Homo sapiens: one gene and its partner. The protein of the gene in region 2 interacts with the protein of the main gene of each other region in a biochemical or structural test. Each region holds a gene or a part of one and is shown on either strand. Other genes may lie near its edges.

What was found. Proteins that work in one complex are often made in the same cells at the same time.
Region 1: the proteins of ANAPC4 (region 2) and MAD2L1BP form a complex in vitro, tested with the Homo sapiens proteins (one study listed by BioGRID).

Annotation. Positions count from the first base shown.
Region 1 is NC_000006.12:43,638,733-43,641,495, forward strand, and holds the end of MAD2L1BP (MAD2L1-binding protein), read left to right. Parts: intron 1-1,288; coding exon 1,289-1,801; 3' UTR 1,802-2,209; downstream 2,210-2,763. UniProt on the Homo sapiens protein: May function to silence the spindle checkpoint and allow mitosis to proceed through anaphase by binding MAD2L1 after it has become dissociated from the MAD2L1-CDC20 complex.
Region 2 is NC_000004.12:25,411,695-25,415,355, reverse strand, and holds part of ANAPC4 (anaphase-promoting complex subunit 4), read right to left. Parts: intron 1,712-3,661; coding exon 1,614-1,711; intron 1,033-1,613; coding exon 971-1,032; intron 891-970; coding exon 852-890; intron 758-851; coding exon 656-757; intron 1-655. UniProt on the Homo sapiens protein: Component of the anaphase promoting complex/cyclosome (APC/C), a cell cycle-regulated E3 ubiquitin ligase that controls progression through mitosis and the G1 phase of the cell cycle.

The DNA.
Region 1 (2,763 bases), on a different chromosome or scaffold from region 2:
TTGCAGTGAGCCGAGATTGCGCCACTGTACTCCAGCCTGGGCGAAAGAGCGAAACTCTGTCTCAAAAAAAAAAAAAAGAATAAATCATTGCAAGCTGTGTGTGCATGCCTGGGCCTTATGAGCTGATAGACTTCACTATAAGGAGATTAGGTGGGAACCTGGTGATCTCTTTGTGGGGATTGGAAAGTCTTCCCTCTGGATGGGGGAGAAATTTGGCAGATGATCTAAGCATCTTCACACAGATTTTCATTCATTTCCCCTATATTCACTCTTGCCTCTGTGGTGCCTGTATCACCACTTCCTAAACCTTTCTGGGGTTCTGCTGTGTGGATCAGTTTGCATCCCTTGGGGGTCCCTTCTGTCAGCACTTGGTATTCAGCTCTCTTGAACTCTTAACTCTTCATCTTCTTTCTTTTTTTTTTTTTGAGACAGAGTCTCGCTCTGTCACCCAGGCTAGAGTGCAGTGGCGTGATCTCAGCTCACTGCAAGCTCTGCCTCCTGGGTTCAGGCTATTCTCCTGCCTCAGCCTCCCTAGTAGCTGGGACTACAGGCATCCACCACCACACTCGGCTAATTTTTTGTATTTTTAGTAGAGACAGGGTTTCGCCATGTTAGCCAGGATGGTCTTGATCTCCTGACCTTGTGATCCGCCCGCCTCGGCCTCTCAAAGTGCTGGGATTACAGGCGTAAGCCACTGCGCCCAGCCAACTCTTCATCTTCTATCTTCCAAAACTTCTGTGTTTGCATTTGGCTAGTGTTGTGTAGTTTCCAGTTCTTTCCTCTTGGGAGTTTTCTTTGTCAGTCTTTCCTCTTCTTTCCTTCATTTGTTTCTTAATTTCTTTTCTCTCATTTTGTAATATTTCAGGTGGAAGTGCAAATAAGCATGTGTTCAGTTTACTATGTTTAAGTGGAAGAACAAGTTCAAAGTCATGTTTATTAGACCAAATAATCCTCATTCCTGTTATCACTCCCCATACAGCAAAAATTTGTTGTCACTTTGTCATGTCACCAAATTTCTATTTTAGTTGCTTATATCTGGATATCCTCCACCTTCAGAACACTGTGTTTGCTGTTCTAAATGTGGGAGAATTATGGTTTTGTACAAATAATATATTTTCCTTTTCAGTATAATACCCTCTGATAAAACACAGTGTTTTGGCTGTGGCGGTTCATTGAGCTAGAAATTAAGTCCTGTAAGTCTATGTACACATCCCAGCAGGGTTCTTTTCAAAGAGCATTAGCTTCCCCCTGCCTTGTTCTTCTCTCCCACCATTCTTTGTCCTCACAGGCAGAGGAGATGCTGAAGAAGAAACCTCGGGCCACCACTGAGGTGAGCAGCAGGAAATGCCAACAAGCCCTGGCAGAACTGGAGAGTGTCCTCAGCCACCTGGAGGACTTCTTTGCACGGACACTAGTACCGCGAGTGCTGATTCTCCTTGGGGGCAATGCCCTAAGCCCCAAGGAGTTCTATGAACTCGACTTGTCTCTGCTGGCCCCCTACAGCGTGGACCAGAGCCTGAGCACAGCAGCTTGTTTGCGCCGTCTCTTCCGAGCCATATTCATGGCTGATGCCTTTAGCGAGCTTCAGGCTCCTCCACTCATGGGCACCGTCGTCATGGCACAGGGACACCGCAACTGTGGAGAAGATTGGTTTCGACCCAAGCTCAACTATCGAGTGCCCAGCCGGGGCCATAAACTGACTGTGACCCTGTCATGTGGCAGACCTTCCATCCGAACCACGGCTTGGGAAGACTACATTTGGTTCCAGGCACCAGTGACATTTAAAGGCTTCCGCGAGTGAATGAGTGCTTCTTAATCCTAAAAACACAATGGCTGAATTATCTTTCTCCATGTGGCGCTGAATCACCCATCTGGTTTGGAGCTAGAGTTGCTTCCTGGTGAGAGAGGAAGCAACTCTCCTTCTGGTTGTCTGCCTCCCCTCAGATTTCCTGATAGGCTGATGGCATGTGGCTGTGACTGTGACTGTAATCATTGCTGAACAACATCTCTTTGAATCAAAGGTTGATTTTCCCAGAGGGTGCTGGGTCAGGCATTTCTATTAGGAGTTGGAAAGCAAAAATGGGTCCATAGACACTCTATGGAGGTGTCCCTTTCTGCTCTTTGCTGTGTCCTTTCAGAATTTTTACCAGGAACATAATGTGGATGTGACTTATGAACTTAAATATAAAATAAATAGATTCTTATTATATTTTCCTGAAATTGTTTTGACTTAACTTGTCAGGTTTTAGGCTATTTTGTCTTTCTCCTTGGCCTCTTCTGCTTCAGGGCTTCTCGAATTTTTTTTTTTTTTCTTTTTTCTTTTTTGAGATGGAGTCTCGCTGTATCGCCCAGGCTGGAGTACAGTGGCACAATCTTGGTCGCTGCAACCTCCACCTCCCAGGTTCAAGGAATTCTCCTGTCTTAGCCTCTCGAGTAGCTGAGATTGCAGGTGTGCACCACCACGCCCAGCTAATTTTTGTATTTTTAGTAGAGATGGAGTTTCACCATGTTGGCCAGGCTGGTCTCGAACTCCTGCCCTCAAGTGATCCACCTGTCTTGGCCTCCCAAAGTGCTGGGATTACAGGTGTGGGCCACCGTGCCTGGCCTTAGGATTTTTTTACTAATGATTTTTTCTCTTGTTCAGCCCCAGGCTAGTCTAGGAAATTAAGTGACTTGGCCAAGTGCATATGTAGTTTGATAGCAGAGTTAGGACTAGAGTCCTCATTAGCTATCTTTTAGCCAACGTGCTTTTCTTATCCCATA
Region 2 (3,661 bases):
GAACACTGAGAACTTGTTTAAATGCCTAGATAGATAAACCAATTTGGTTTAAAATCACACAGTCACCAAAGACATTTGGAATAGAAATAACCCAATTATTTCTTTTTGGTTACATCGTGGTCTCAACATTTTCTTCAAATTCAGGTTTAAAACCATTTTTAAGCTACCAATGGCGTTCTAAATATGATTTATTTTTCAGAACTTCTACTTTCAATTTCAAAGTAAGTCTCTGTTAGGCAAGGCCTCTTGTTTAATGAAAAGCATACTTAACCCTAGGCAAAAATCATTTCTATAAGGCAGCCACTTTTAGAAGTTTTTAACTTCTAAAAAGTTAAAACTTCTTTAACTTTTAGTTTTTCGGAAGTTTTTAACTTCTAAAAAATGAAGTATAATATCCTGAGCTGTCATATTTTTCCTAACTCTAAAAAAAGTCCTACAATGATTATATGCCAATAAAAATTAAATAATCTAAAACAAGATCATATAACTTCCTAATTCAGTGTTACCCTTTTAATGACATGAAAACTAACAATTAAATGACACATCTAAAAGTCACAAAGTAGTTTAAAATCTGAAATGCTGGAAGGCTGTATGCTTCATTCTTACAAATAATAAAATCTTATCTCTTTGATTCAAACTTCAGATTAATACTTACTGAGAAATATCAGTATGTCTCCTTAAGATGCACATTTTATAAAGTGAATCTTCTAGAATAGTAAAAAGAAGATAATGTAGATTTGAAGTTTTATTATTCCACCTAAGAAAAAAAATTGTCATAATATTTTTTAACTATTGATGGATAAAACAAAATTGTATTGTTCACTCAAGATAGGGAAGAAATATATACTTACAGAAAAGGAAATTTGAACAATCTACGTGTAGAATCCTCACTAAAATAAAAGGGAAAAAGAAATGAGAAAAATTTAAATTGGCTGCGGAATTACACCATCCAATAGGTAAACAGAATTACCTTCTGGTATCTCTATACAATGGAATACAGATTGCTTGATTCATCGATTTTCCAATTACATCCTATATAAAATAAGATTTTAAAATATAATTAGAGCGTTAATATGCACACAGATACTCTACAGAAAGTGACTGACCATCACTGTTCGAATGTGGTAAAAAAATCGCCTACATCACCAAACCTTGTACATAAGAAACGTTAATGACAATTGTAACAGTAAGGAAAAAGAGAAAATTCTGAGCTGAAAAGGACCTTGGTGCTAAGCACATGGCAGGTTTAAGACCACCTCCCTCTGGTCTCATAACAACCATTCATTCACATCCTTCAGTAGTAAGCAGAGACACATCAGCTCTGTAACTAAGACTGTTTACAATGAATTTCTTCTGGGAACAAATAAAATACTCAAGATGCCAACACCTTCAGTAATCTTTATACACACACACACACACACACACGTGTGTAAGAAACTTAAGTTGGAGTATTAGGTTGAACCATATGAAATTGTTACTTTTGTTAATCAAAAACAGTTGACTATCAACATTTTCATAGTTCATTCTAAAAATTAAGATCATTTACATAAGTGAGCCACATACTGTAGACACTATTGCTCCTACACAAAGACATGCATTTCTTTCAAACTTACTGCTGGCTTTTGCAAACACTGATCAATAATATTCTCCATCCGCCTTTTCACAAAATGCAATGATTTTCGAGGATAATAAGGAAACAGCAAAGGACTTTCTGGTTTCAAACAAAAACAGAAACAAAAATAAAAGAAGCTATAGCAAACTTATAATTAGAAGAAAATAATCTACTGTTAGAGCCAGTCTGCACAGTTTATCTCGAGGTAGAATTTTCACTGACCACTTCATTGGATTTTCACACAACCTCATTAAAAACGACCATGGTCTTCTGCCTTTCATCAACCCCCGCTGACAGCTCACTAAAAACAATCTCACTTACTACAAACTTAGACTCACCAAAATCCAACTGTAGGTTTCTGCTGGCTATAAGAAGCAAGGAATGATTTGGGAACCATCAAATATATGATGAAATAAAATTCATTCTTCTATTCTTTGCCACAGTGAAACAACAACAGCAGTCCAGTACTGTTTTTTAAGTCTCTAAAACAAGAGACTGGAAACTAGCTCTATATAAATAAGCTCTTTACTTTTTAAAAGGTTACTTTATCAGGAGAAAGTAATATATAATTTAGCACTAACACCTGCTATGCTAGGTGTTTAAAATACCTTTTTTTTTATTGCTTACAATAGCCATATGAAGTAAACACCATATTCTCCAATTTACAGATGAAAAAAAAAATGAAGCTTAACAGGTTTAGGCAATTGCCCAGTGTGAAAATAACTAAGTATCTAGTTCTGTCAATCAAACCCAAGTCTGACTCTAATGCCCACCCTCTTCCACTGTGCTTTGTAGGCCCTCCCTTAGATAAAGCCATGCTGGATAAAATGAACTACAATCACATTAACATTTTAAGTTCTCAAGGTGACAGATGCTATGTTATCACAGAAAAACATTGATCTTTGTTTCTAGTTCCTAGAACAGAGCTTCCAAAACCCTTGGAATTTCCTGAGTGATAAAGGTGACAGGAACATTTTTTTTTTTCTTTTTTTAAAGACAGAGTCTCATTCTGTTGCCCAGGTTGGAGTGCAGTGGTGCAGTCTCAGCTCATTGCAAACTCTGCCTCCCGGATTCAAGCGATTCTCCTGCCTCAGTGTCCCGAGTAACAGGACTACAGGTGCACACCACCACACCCAGCTAATTTTTAGTAGAGATAGGGTTTCACTATGTTGGTCAGGTCTCGAACTCCTGATCTCAAGTGATCCGCCCACCTCACCCTCCCAAAGTGCTAGGACTACCATCTTTTGTTTTAATGAGGCAACTCTTGGCTGGCACCTAGATAGCTTTAGGATAGGGGCTGGCCACCAAAAAGACCAAGCCTTGATTAGAAGTTTGGAAACTTCAGCTCCACCCGCCAGCCTCCAAGGAAGAGAGAGGGGCTTGGAGGTTGAGTTCAATCACCAATGGCCAATGACTTCATCAATCATGTCTACATAATGAAACCGCCAGAAATACACTGGGACAATGAGGTTCAGAGAACTTTCTGGGTGGTGAATATGTCCAGGTGCTGGGAGAGCATGGAAGCTTTGCACCTTTCTCTCCATACCCTGCCTGATATAGCACTTCTATGTGGCTGTTCCTGAGTCATATTCTTTACAACACACTGGTAAACAAAAATTATATGTTTCCCGGAGTTTTGTGAGCCATTCTAGCAAAATTATCCAACCTGAAAGGGAGGAAGGTTCTGGGAACTCTTGACCTTAACCTTATAGCCAAGTCAGACAACAAGCATGGCTACCCAAGAGATGTGGGGACCCAGAGACCTGACATTTGACGCGAGGGCAGTCTTGTGGGACTGCATCCTTATCCTGTGAGGTCTGCGCTAACTATCTGTAATTCGTGTCAGAATTGAATTGTAGGACACCCCGTTGGTGTCAAAATTGGTTGGTGTCAGGAGGAAAAAAATTTCTCTCATTTTGTTGTCAGAAACACTGAGTAAAAAGTGCTCAGACACTAACCTACAGACTGCTTCTGTGCTAAGTGCCAGGCATTAGTCTAAGTGCTTATGTAGATTAATTTATTTAATCTCCACACCAGTTTTTTGAGGGC